3 separate regions of the Homo sapiens genome follow, and all the other regions are linked to region 3. Evidence: fine-mapped expression QTL. A gene starts in region 3. Each other region holds a variant in brackets. All regions are shown on one strand. Distances are from middle to middle.

Region 1 (4,208 bases), 28 kb after region 3:
TCCGCCCCACAGCCCCAGCTGCCATCACAGCTGCCATCACAGGCAGCCAGCCTGGATCAGACCAAGGACACCTTCCCTCTCCACCCCCATGCCGAATCCTGAACCCGTTCCTGCCCCATACCCTTTGCCAAAACTTTATCTCAGAAAATTGCTTTCTTTGACTCCAGGCCCGGTGTTTCTGGGTAACTGGCATCTCCCGCTGTTGCCTTCTCTTTCTCTCTTTCTCTTTTTTTTTTTTTGAGACACAGCCTCACTCTGTCACCCAGGCTGGAGTGCAATGGTGTGATCTTGGCTCACTGCAACCTCCGCCTCCCGGGTTCAAGCGATTCTCCTGCCTCAGCCTCTAGAGTAGCTGGGACTACAGGAGCGTGCCACCATGCCTGGCTAATTTTTTGTATTTTTAGTAGAGATGGGGTTTCACCGCTTTAACCAGGATGGTCTCGATCTCCTGACCTTGTGATCTGCCTGCCTCGGCCTCCCAAAGTGCTGGGATTACAGGCGTGAGCCACCGTGCCTGACCTGCCTCCTCTCTTTTTATCTGAGGCCTGCTTGCAGACAGGTCTCTTCCTCCATCTCTGATTTGGGCTTGTGGGAGGAGAGTGCTGACCAGCACGGGGATGGAGGCATCTAGCCTGCCCAGGAATCTGGCTGCCTGGTTCTGAGCCACAGACCTAAGGTCAGGCCCTTGCCTTGCCACTTCCTGATCTCTTTGTGCCTCAGTTTCCACATTTGGAGCTGGGGCAGAGTTGTGCCATCCTCCCTCCATGCTGTCATAAGAGCCGTTGAGCTAAAGCACAGAGGCCCGCCCTGGGCGCAGATTCGGGCTTGCGGCAGGCTCTTGGTATTTGGCAGCTGTTGCGAGCTTGCTTTGAGTGGTTTTTGAAAAGTGGCTTCCTCAAGTCTGGTCAGGCACAAACAATTCAGAGACACCTCTTTGGGCTTCCTTCCCACTTCCCTGGGAATAGATTCTAGTTCCTTTACTCATCTGACCTCCACCTGACACCCCTTTCCTGTCTGTTCATGTGTTCATTCATTCATTCATTCATTCATTCATTCCACAAACCAGTATTGAGCACATTTGAGGGCCCTACGCCGTACCCTTTGCCAAAACTTTCTCTTGGAAAATTCCATTCTTTGACGCCAGGCCTGGCCTTTCCAGGTGTCTGACATCCCCAGGGATCCAGTAGCTTCCATGCCTTTATGAGTGAGTCCCCACAACAGGTCTGTGTGGCAGGTGCTGATAATATGATGCCCACTTTATGGATGAGGCGCCCAAGGCAGGGAGTGCAGGAGGAGCCGTCCCGCGCTCACACAGGCAGGGAGCAAGGGTGGCCTTGGTGGTGGTTTGGTGTTCTTGTTCGGTGACTTTAGAGAGAACATTGATTTGGTTCCAACTTGAAACGATTCTGTACTTTTCAGAAAAAGCATTTTTGTTTGTTTCATGGCTCAGTAAAGAATGGGTATGTGGGCTTGGCTCCAGGCTCAGCCGCTCTCTGTAGCCTCTTTCAGCTTTTGCTTCACGGCTCTGTTCATGTCTTGCCAGTGAAAGAGCCCGGGCTGACCACAGAGAGGGGCTGCAGGGACAGGCTGACAGGGAGGGTGGTCCACCCTTCTGCTGAGAGCTGCCCCTTTTCAGCCTAGCTCCCCCCACCCCCCCACATAGG[T/C]GGGGCAGCCGAGTGCCTGGGGAAGCCAGGGCCTTCCCTGACATCCCGTCCCCAGGGATTGAGAGATGGCAACGAGTAAGTCTTAGATGTTGGCCTGGGAGCAAGGGCTGTGGGAGAAGCAAACCCTTGAGTGCCACAGGGCGTTCCTGGGGGCTCTCCCAGCAGCGGCAGTGGCAGTGGCAGGTAGCACTTGGGCACCGGGAAGGGGTGGGGCCAGTGTCCCCTGCTGGGGTGGTGGGTACAGAGCCCCTGGCTAGGACTGCTCACCAAGGGAGCATTTTCTCATCCAGAGCAGGCCGTTGCCCGGGGACATGGCCGTGGGGAGGGGAGGGCTGGAGGGGAGGCCCCCCAGCGAATGTCTGCCCATCTCCCGGGACACCTTCCCTGAGCTAAAAGCCTACTTTTCTGCTTTCTCTTGCAGTTACCGAGAAGGAGGTCCAGCAGTGGTGAGTAGCTGCTTTTTCTCAAACCGTAGAGGGGCTGCGGCTGTGGGCTTTGTGGGCTGTGGGCTGATGGGGACAGCAGTCCAGCTGCTCAGGATGGGGGCATGTGGAGGGGCCCCTGAGCGTGGGGTCCAGACAGCCTTTGTTCAGTGGCCTTTGTCCTTGCGGGACTGACGTGGTTTCAGTGGAACTGGGTTGGGGGTGGCGCTGGGGTGTTTGTTGGTGGTCCTTGCTTTGAGTTGCATCTTTAGGGACCACCAAGGCCTGAAGGGTTGATTCCAGGCCCTGTTCACCAAAGAGAAGGGTTTGGATAAGAAAGTCCTTCTATGACCTTGAGAGGTCCTTTCCCCTCGCTGGGGCTCCGTCACCCCTTCTATAGAATGATCGATTCGATTGGATCAGGGATGGCAAATGGGTTTGCTCTTGGATGCCAGCTCTATTCAATCTGTCGTAGCTGCCTGGAGGGCCGTGATAAGGATTCCGAGGCCGTACGTCATGGAGCAAATGGAAAAGCGGCAGTGAGGGATAAGTGGGGCCTGTAATGGATGAGCAGTGCCAGGGCTGGGCCTGGGGGAGGAGGGCGGTGTATTGTCCGTCTTTGTGGAATGTGGAGCAGACAGGAGGCTCACCATGTAAGGTGGCTGAGCTGTAGGGGTGGCACGTAGGGACATGAGGCAATGAGCTTGGAGATTTTCCAGTCAAGTCTGGCAGGGCCGGGCACCCCCCAGGAGCCTCCAGGGCCACTCCCTACACCTCCCTGCCTCAAGTCCAAGCTGCAGATGGGGCAGGGCTATGCTGGCCCGCCTGGCTCTGCTGAGCCCTTGCTGGGAGGTGCCCCATCCTGGGATTGAGTTTCCGCCCTCACTTTCCACTTCTGCACTTCCCCAGGTGAGTGCCCTAGAAACACCCTCCTTCTAGATCTTCACCCATGTGGCTCTGCTTCCTGGAATGCCCGCCTTCCTTCCTGGGCCATCTGAACTCTGCCCCTCCCAAGGCTCAGCCCAAGTCGCCTCCACCATGAAACCTCCCTAGATTCCCCATCCGTACATGTTCTCCCTGCCTTCACACACGCCAGCCAGAGGGGTCTTTGCTGAACAAAAACCTGACCATGCCAGGCGTCTGCCACCCTCCCCAGACCTCAGGGTGAAGTCCTCACCCTTGACATGGTTATGTGCTTACGAGGCCTGGTTCAGTCTGGCCCTGTTGACCCCTGCAGTCTGGCGTCCTCTGCCTGTTGGCCTTTGCCCTTTACCCTCTGGCCAGCCTGAACTGCTGTTTGTTCCTTGAACTCACCTTTGTCTCCGGGGCTTCCTGATGTTTGCCCAGGCTGCTCCCTCTGCCTGCTGGGCTGTTACCTCCTCGCCCCTCCCCCCCACCCCCTGAAACCCCCCAGGCCTCTGTCAGAGTTCCCACTGCCCTGTGCCTCCCTGGGACAGCCGATGACTTACTGGGCAGCAGGTAAGCATTTTGTCCCTCTCTGCATCCTGTCGGCACTCTGAGGGCTGGCTAGCTTGGCCTTGTCCATGTTGTGTCCCTAGGGCCTGGCCACAGTGGGTGCTTGGCCCCCAACAGGCATCGTCCTTGGTGCTTCAAATCCATGTTTTTTTTTTTTTTTTGAGTTGGAGTCTCTCGCTCTGCCACCCAGGCTAGAGTGCAGTGGCATGATCTCAGCTCACTGCAACCTCCGCCTCCCAGAGTCAAGCGATTCTCTTGTCTCTGCCTCCCGAGTAGCTGGGACTACAGGTGTGTGCCACCATGCCCCACTAATTTTTATATTTTTAGTAGAGACGGGGTTTCACCATCTTGGCCAGGCTGGTCTCGAGCTCCTGACCTCAAGTGATCCACCCACCTCGGCCTCCCAAAGTGCTGGGATTACAGGAGTGAGCCACTGCACGTGGCCTGCCATTGACTTCTGGGAGCAGTACTAGGGGTTAACAGAGCTCATCATTCCACATGGCAGATGAGGAAACTGAGGTTCAGAGAAAGTCCAGTTGGGAGGTGGCAGGGTTGGGATGAACCATAGGCATCGAGACTCCAGAAGCTGAGCTCTTGCCTCCAGGGTAAATATGTGTGTGTGTGTGTGTGTGTGTGTGTGTGTGTG
Region 2 (4,208 bases), 86 kb before region 3:
CAATTGATTCCTGGCTGGGCATGGTGGCTTGCGCCTGTAATCCCAGCACTGTGGGAGGCTGAGGTGGGTGGATTAATTGAGCCCAGGAGTTCAAGACCAGCCTGGGCTACATGGCGAAACCTTATCTCTACAAAAAATAGAAAATTAGCGGGCATGGTGGTATGCGCCTGTGGTCGCAGCTGTTCTGGAGGCTGAGGTGGAAGGATCACCTGAGCCTGGGAGGCTAAGGCTACAGTGAGCTATGATTGTGCCACTTCACTCTAGCCTGGGTGACAGAGTGAGACCCTGTCTCAAAAAAAAAAAAAAGGAAAAGAAAATTGATTTCTAAGTTGCACAGCACTTACATGATGTAGGATCAGGTAGTTAGGGAAGGAAGATGCCAAACCATCAGAAAAGCCCTCTGGAAGGAGCTGTCGCCGGGGCTGAGTCTGGAGTTTGTTCAGGGAAGAGAAAGACAAGGGAGGGGAGGAAGAATGCCATACGCAAAGACTGGATGATGACAAATGCTGAGCACTGGCTCGTTTGAAGTAAAAGACACATATTTGGGAGCAGAGAGAGGTCTTAGATAATATAGGGCCAAGCAATAGAGGAATTGATGAGCAGGCTACGGGAAGTCATCCTGAGTTCCTGATTGGGAAAGACTGTTTATTAAAGATCATAATTCTGAAAGTGACGTGAAGGGTAGCCTTGGAGAAGGAGAAAGGGTTGTTAGAAGGACCAGGAAGGACACAGTTGTGAGAATACAGGTTTCGGGTGATGAGGATCTGGACTAGAGCAGAGCCTTGGATGGTAAACGACTGGGAAGCCAGTTAGGGTCATGGGAGGGAAAGAGAGGAGCAGAGGAGTGGGTCGTAGAAATAGCAGAAGTGGAAAAACTGGGAAAGTTTTGGTTGGCGATATCTTGATTTCTCCATGAGGGGGACATCTAAATGGTGATGTTTTGTCTTAACAGCTTTGTTGAAGTATAATTGACCTAAAATAAACTGTAGATATGTAAAGCAGCAATCTGATAACTTTGACTTATCAATCAAGGTAGTGAAATATCCATCACCCCAAAAATTTCTTCTGCCTTTTTGTAAGCCCCCTGTCCCCAAGCAATCACTGATCTGTCACTGGGGTATAGATTAGTTTTATAGAACTTCATATAACTGAATTATGCAGCACTCTTTTCTGTCTTATATTCAGCATAATTACTTTGAGTTCATCCACATTGTTGCATGTATCATTTCTTTTCATTGCTCAGTTTTACTGTATAAATGGCAATATTTTGATTTTTTTTTTTTTTTTTGCCGGGGGGAACGCAGTCTTGCTCTACCACCCAGGCTGGAGTGCAGTGGCACGATCTCAACCTCCACCTCCCAGGTTCAAGCAGTTCTCCTGCCTCAGCCTCCGGAGTAGCTGGGATTATAGACACGCACCACCACGCCTGGCTGATTTTTGTATTTTTAGTAGAGATGGGGTTTCACCTTGTTGGCCAGGCTGGTCTTGAACTCCTGACCTCAAGTGATCTGCCCACCTTGGCCTCCCAATATGTTGGGATTACAGGCGTGAGCCACTGTGCCTGGCCAATATTTTGGTCATTTGATGTCAGGAGTGGAATTCAGGGGATGTAACAGGGCATGGCCTGGGTCAGCACCCTTAGTCTGACTGAAGCTTCAAGGGTAGACAAGCTGTCTAGCCGAAAGATTCAAGGCAGGGGGTGGAGGTAGGGGTTAGTGCAGAGGCAGAAGAGACAGGTGAAGAACAACTACCATTCTCTGTGAAAGCAGATTTCAGCCATCTCGAAAGGATAGTTGGTTTTATTTTCAGAGAGCTTTTTTGAAGGTCAGCAAATTTAGAGTTTAAGAAACATGTTTTGTTTTGTTTAATAAATTACTTTTAATTAGCATGCTTCTATGCCGGTGTCATCCTAAAACATACTATTATGTCTTTTTAGGCCATGGGAGAGAAATCCTTTTCTGTTCATAATAATGGTGGGGCAGTGTCATTTCAGGTATGTATGCTCTTTGTGTAAAGCCTCCTAGAATTTCTCTCTACCATGTAAAAGGGTAATTTTTTTTTAGAGGAATTTTGAATTTAGGAATAACAACTTAGGTATGCCCTGTATCAGTCACTTAAATGCAGTAGCTCTCCTTATAACAAGCCCACAAGGTGGATATTGTTACCCATCTACTTATCAAATCAGAAGTCTCTGAGAGTGAATAACTTTGTGACTATCTAGTGTAGGTGACACGGTACAGTTTCCAACCCAGTCCTGCCTGGCTGTTCCCATGACCCCTTTGCCCCAATCCCATGCTACCTCCCATTCAAAGTGTGCCAGAAGCATAGTACCCCATTCTGAAAGGACCATTGATGATGATTTACGGTGATGTTGTAATTTTAGAGATGATTTCACCTAGACTCAGAGGCTTTGAGTGACCTGCTTAGCTGTCAGAGTTATTAATTGCCCATGAGTGTTTAGGGGCAGCATAATAGCATA[C/T]GTATGGGAACAAGATACTGGACTGGGCCTCAGAACCCACTTACTAGCTGGGTGTATTGGACACCTCACTTCATTTCTTTTTGTTTTGTTTTTGAGACAAGGTCTCACTCTGTTGCCCAGGCTGGAGTGCAATGGTATAATCACGGCTCACTGCAGCCTCAACCTCCTAGGCTCAAGTGATCCTCCTGCCTCAGCCTCCCAAGTAGTTGAGACTACAGGCATAGACCACCATACCTGGCTAATTTTTAAATTTTTTGTAGAGATGAGGTCTTGCTCTGTTGCCCAGGCTGGTCTTGAACTCCTGGGATCAAGCAGTCCTCTTACCTGGGCCTCCCAAAGTGCCGAGATTACAGATGTGAGCCACCTTGCCTGGTCTCACTTACTTTCTGAACCTCACTGTTTAATCATCTAAAAATAAAAAATGGCAGGGCGTGGTGGCTCACGCCTGTTATCCCAGCACTTTGGAAGGCTGAGGTAGGCGGATTGCTTGAGCCCAGGAGTTTTGAGACCAGCCTGGGCAACATGGTGAAACATCTCTACAAAAAATACAAAAATTAGCCAGGCATGGTGGTAGATGCTTACAGTCCCAGCTACTAGGGAGGCTAAGGTGGGAGGATCACTTGAGCCCAGGAGTTCAAGACTATCCTGGGAAATGTGGTGAAACTTCATCTCTTAAAAAAAATTACAAAAAGTAGCCAGGTGTGATGGCATGTGCCTCTAGTCCCAGCTACTAGGGAGGCTGAGGCAGGAGGATTACTTGAGCCTGGGGGGTCAAGGTTCACACAGTGAACCTCGATCATGCCACTGCACTGCAGCCTGGGTGACAGAGTGAGACCCTGTCTCAAAAAAAAAAAAAAAAAAAAGCCTACAGTGAAATGCACAGGTCGTGTCTTAAGTATACGGTTTGTTCAGTACTGACAAATGCATATATACCCATGTAATTCACTGTCTCAATATTTCTGTGTTTCCATCTTCTGCGAAAGCCCCTCTATCCCCATAAGCACTGTTCTGATTTCTTTTTCCATGGATCATTTTGCCTGTTCAACAATGTTTGTATGTTCTTTAAGCTTAGTAACCATCATTTTCGTCGCCATCCTTATTAATAGCTAACGGTTATTGAGAACTTGCAGGGTGCTCATTTGCTCAGAACCCTCCAACAGCTTTCCATCTGTCTTGGAGTAAAGCCCAGGTCTTCCCACTGGTCTGCAAGGCCCATGTGGTCTAGCCCCTGTTGTCTCTCTGATCTCAGCTCCTGTTGTTCACACTCTGCTCTCCCACACAAGCCGCCTTGCTTTTTCTCGGACAGATCAGGCTTTAGGCTCTGCTCTCGCTGTTCCCACAGGCAGGAATGCTGTCTCTCAGAATTCCGTAAGTCTTTGCTGAAATGTCACCTTCTCAACAAAGCTTCTCTTGTTTGTAGCTCACTCCTATTTCCCTCATTGTGCTCTGTCTTTCCTTAGTATTATCACTTCCAACATGCTGTATACTGTACTTAGTTATGTTTATTGCCTGTCTCCCCCTCTACAGAAGATACCTTAAGGGCAGGGGTTTTCTGTCTCTTATTATTGATGTATATGAAACTCCTGATCTTGGCCTTGGGCCTATATTTATAGAGACTAATGAACCAATACCAGGCATTGTGCTAAGTGCTTCTATGTCATTATCTCAGTTAATCCTCTAAACAACTCTGTGAAGTCGGTATTGTTATTTTTTCTCTTTTACCAATGAG
Region 3 (4,208 bases):
TTACCAGCATGAGCCACTGCACCCAGCCTGAGCACCTGGGTTTCTAAAGGGCTTTAACTACTACTGCTGTCATCCAGCCAGGCCCTGGTTCCCGTGCTGGCTCTCCCTCCTCCCAGGCAGGATGCTCAGCACAGTCTGGTCAACTGTTAGCCCCCCACTGTGGGCCCCTCACTGCTGTCCACTCTGAGTTGGTCCTCAAGGTTGGGACATTCTGCTCCCAGGTCTACACCAGATCCCTCCAACTGGGCCCACCTCCTCTGCAGAATGAGCTCCCCAAGCCAGCAAGTCCATCCCCATCTGAAGACTTCCTGGGGCCTGGGGCTCAGCCTGGGCAGGGGCTTCAGGGGAAAGCAGGAGTGGATGGAGTATGCTTAGAGGCAGGAGAGATATTTGGGAGCTGGAAGGCACTCGGCCCTGCTCAGGGTTCCTCTGAGCTTTCTGGACCCTCCGAGGTTAGAACACTGTGGAAAGAAGGGAGAAAGAGACCCCACTCCTGCCTCATCCCTGCTAGCCCCGGGGAGGGCTGCCTCATCCTCCCCGCTCTCTCCCCTACCCCAGGGCCCCAGCACCGGGTGTCATTCTTTCCTCCGTCCTTCGCTCATTCACAGAGATTTGCTGGGTAACACCTCAGGCGGCCTTCTGGGTTATGGAGATGCCTCTGCCCTCTGGGAGGGTGTTCTCCCATGGAAGAGACAAACAGGATGCAGAAAACATAGGTGACGTTTGTGATGGATGTGAAGGAGAGAAACTAAAGCCGAAAAGGATAGGAGAGTTCTCAAGATATGATGATATGTTGGATGAGGTGGACCGGGAAGGCCATGCTGGACCTACCACCTGAACCACACCCCCCTACGCGAATCCACTGGCCTCTGTCCATTCAGGTGGAGCCTGTCACCCCAGCCTCGGCTCAGAGAAACAGCTCTGAGCAGCTCTGACCTGTCACTCCAGCAGCTCTGACCCATCACTCTCTGCTGAAGTCCTTTCATGGGCGCTGGTGGGCAGGGGCCCAGCTCCTCGGCGAGGGGCCTCTCCTGGCCTGCCCCGTGGGCCCTGCCCTTCTCCCAGGTCCCCTGTGCCTGCAGCCGTGCGCAAGCCCGCAAGCCGGGGAACTCTCCCTCGGGCATGCAGGCCTCCCCGCCTCTCCAGGTTGCCTGGGCCAGAACGCTTCTCCATCCACCTCCCTTCCTGACCCTGGGTTTGGAGGTCTCCTGCCCCCAGGCCGAGAGTAGGTGCTCCCACCGCTACCTGCCGCATCCCGCACAGCCCCCTGCCCGCCCTGCGAGGGCTGGGGCACTCCTGTCCCGTGGGCCGCCGTGTCCCCGGCACCCCATGAATCCGTGTCGAATGAATGAATGTCTCCGGGCCGGGACCTGGCCTCATTCACATCCGATCTTCCGGGCCCTCCCCGCCGCGGCGGGGGCCGGAGCGCCAGGGCTGGATTCGGGGAGGGGGTGGCGGGGGTGGCTGCCCCGCCCTGGGGCCGCGTTGAGCCGAGGGGACGCCCCTCCGGCTGGCTGGCGAGGCCGGGGTCCAGCTGGCGGAGGCCGCGGCCAGGCGGGTGCGGGGCGGGAGGTGGCGCCGGGCGCTGAGTGGCGGCTCCGGGTCCACCCCTGGCGCGCGGGTGCGGGCGGGAGGGGGGAGGCGGGAGGCGGGGAGCGCAGGGGCGGCGGCAGGCGGGAGGCAGCAGCGAGCATGTGCCGCGGAGCCCAGTAACCAGGGACGACCGCGGCCACACCGCGCCGGCGCCGGCGCCCAGCCCAGGCAGCCCCGCGCCGCGGCGCCCGGACCGCCCGGGCCTGCCCAGCGGCCGCCCCACGCCCCGGGCGCCCCGGCGCCGACAGCCGCGCAGCGCAGCGCGGGCGCCGCAGACAAAGGCGCGGCCCCGGCCCGGCCCGCCCGGCCCAGCCGCTCCTGCTGGGCGCCCCAACCGGGTCCGGCCCGGGGGGGCGGGGGCCGCGGCCGCCGAGGATGGGGAAATCCAACAGCAAGTTGAAGCCCGAAGTTGTGGAGGAGCTGACCAGGAAGACCTACTGTGAGTGCTCCCAGCCCCCAGCCCGCGCCCCGCGGTCACCCCCACACCCACCGCCCCCGCCCCCGCCCCCCGGACCCGCGCGCTACCCGCTCCGCGCTGCCGCCTCCGCTCCGTCCTCCCCGCCCGGCCTCCAATGTGGACCCCTCGGAGGTTCCCGGGCCGCGCCCCTGCCCCCCGCCCGGCCCCATTGTTCTGGCACCCCCAGCCCGGGGAGTGCGCGCCGGTCGGCGTGCGCGGCGCCACCCCTAGGTCCGGAGGGGCAGCCCCAGCCCCCTGGCGGCCCCCTCTCCGCAGAGCTGTCCCAACGGGCAGGGGCTGTTGCCAGGGTGGGGCGGTGGTCCCGGGAGGGGGCGCCCGGCTGCGCGGAGCCGACTGGCACGAGCGCGCGGGGCTGGTGATTCATGCATCACGATGCCGCCGCCGCCGCTGCTGCGAGATTGGCCTGTCGCCCCCTCCCTGGCCCCGTTCGTGTGGGGGGGGGGGTGGCGAGACTTGGCACAGCGCTCGTCGTGCGGTGACGGCGGTGAAGGGTCCCCGGCACCCTGTGGGTTGCAGCACTTACAGGCTGGATTCTCCCTGGCCCCATCTCTGTCTGCCACACCGGGAAGTGGGTTTCTACAGCCCGGGTCATCTGGGCCGCGTGTGATCATTAGCTGTCGCGGGCTGCCCGGAGGAGGATGGCCTGTCCTTTCTGGGCGTCTCCAGATCAGCCTCAGTGTGTCTCCCTCCACTTGCCTAACTTCACAACTCTGCAGTCCCCTTGCAGTCCTAGTTTCTCCATACCAGGCTTCCCCCTTCCCTGCAGCCTCTCCGGAGGTGCCCTGGCATACCAGGGGTTAATGGTAATGGGTCCAGACCACCCAGGGGATTGCCAGAGGGAAGGCTTCAGCATCGGGGTCTGGAAGGACCTCTGCCTGGGTGTTTGACTTGGAAGGGGACAGTGGTTCTGGGCTTGGGTTGGAATTCAGAACCCATCCCCGGGCAGCTGCGTGGGCCCAGGCCCTCTGCACCACCCCTGGAGGCAGCAGCTTGACCGCCAGCCCCATGTGTTGATGGAGGCTGGGGAGGCAGCTCCTGGTGGTGCATTGCACAACCTCTGCTCCCCGCTTCCCCCCACTCCATCGGCCTTCTGGGCACGTCTGCAGGTCTGTCCAAGCCCACGCTTCAGCTCCATGCCCCTCACCCCTCATGCTTGGAACAAAGGGGGCTTTCCTGAGCGGGTGCTAGTCTGCTGCGAGGTGCTGGCCCTTCTCCTGTGGAATCCTGCAGCATGGAGCTCACATCCCAAGAGCTGCTACCTGGAAGGGGTGAAGCCCCTGGGCACAGGGGCTGTTCTCACCCTCTCTCCAAGGTGGGCAGGTGGGTGGCCCATTCCAGTCTGGCTGCTGTTTTGTGAGATTCGCTGGGGACTCCTTCAAGCTAAGTCCAGATGTGGCCCACAGCCGCCAGCAGGTGGACTTCCTGGGTCCCTGTGCCGGGGGAGGGTGAGGACACCGTGGGCTCCATCAGGAGTGGTGGGCATGGGCTGCACGGGATGCCTCCATCATGGTGGGACAGGGGAGTGAAGCCAGGTTTCCTGCTCATCGAGCATGTCACGTGCCAAGCTCTTGGCATCATTAGCACCTCGACTCTGCCACAACTGCTCTACCAGGCTGGGTGCTGCTACGATCTCCATTTACAGATGGGGAAACTAAGGCTCAGAGGGGCAAAGTGGCATTCCCATGATCCCACAGCTAGTGACCAGGCAGTGCCAGGACTTGAACTCCGGTCTGTCCTGCTCCAAGGCTAGTGAGAGACTTCAGAGCTCGTGCCAAGAGCTCTTCTGGGCCAGGCACAGTGGCTCACGCCTGTAATCCCAGCACTTTGGGAGGCCGAGGCGGGTGGACCAGCCTGACCAACGTGGAGAAACCCCCATCTCTACTAAAAATACAAAATTAGCTGGGCATGGTGGCACATGCCTGTAATCCCAGCTACTCGGGAGGCTGAGGCAGGAGAATCGCTTGAACCTGGGAGGCGGAGGTTGCGGTGAGGTGAGATTGCTCCAAGAGGGAAACTCTGTCTCCAAAAAAAAAAAAAAAAAGCTCTGCTGGGTGTCTTTTTCTGGCTTTTGCTAGAAGCCCATGATGGTGGATTCTAAATGGGAAGGGCCTGGGGTGATAGTCCTGTCCGGCCCCCT

Evidence for each region. PIP is the estimated chance that this variant, and not a neighbour inherited with it, causes the effect.
Region 1: its variant is the best candidate, but not a certain one, in a credible set for the expression of NCS1 in tibial nerve (GTEx, PIP 0.61).
Region 2: its variant is the best candidate, but not a certain one, in a credible set for the expression of NCS1 in whole blood (TOPMed, PIP 0.57).

The regions. Positions count from the first base shown.
Region 1 is chr9:130,198,873-130,203,080 of GRCh38, forward strand. It overlaps NCS1 (neuronal calcium sensor 1), which reads left to right. Exons shown (of 8, transcript NM_014286.4): 2 at 2,086-2,110. Among named protein-coding and RNA genes, the nearest start is that of NCS1, 29 kb to the left of the region's middle. The variant T/C (reference allele first, on the strand shown) is at 1,665.
Region 2 is chr9:130,084,484-130,088,691 of GRCh38, forward strand. GPR107 (G protein-coupled receptor 107) reads left to right here. Exons shown (of 18, transcript NM_020960.5): 7 at 1,937-1,993. Among named protein-coding and RNA genes, the nearest start is that of GPR107, 33 kb to the left of the region's middle. The variant C/T (reference allele first, on the strand shown) is at 2,480.
Region 3 is chr9:130,170,696-130,174,903 of GRCh38, forward strand. It overlaps NCS1 (neuronal calcium sensor 1), which reads left to right and starts at 1,709. Exons shown (of 8, transcript NM_014286.4): 1 at 1,709-2,032. The coding sequence starts at 1,969. RefSeq lists enhancers at 823-1,611, 3,073-3,983 and a silencer at 1,686-1,775.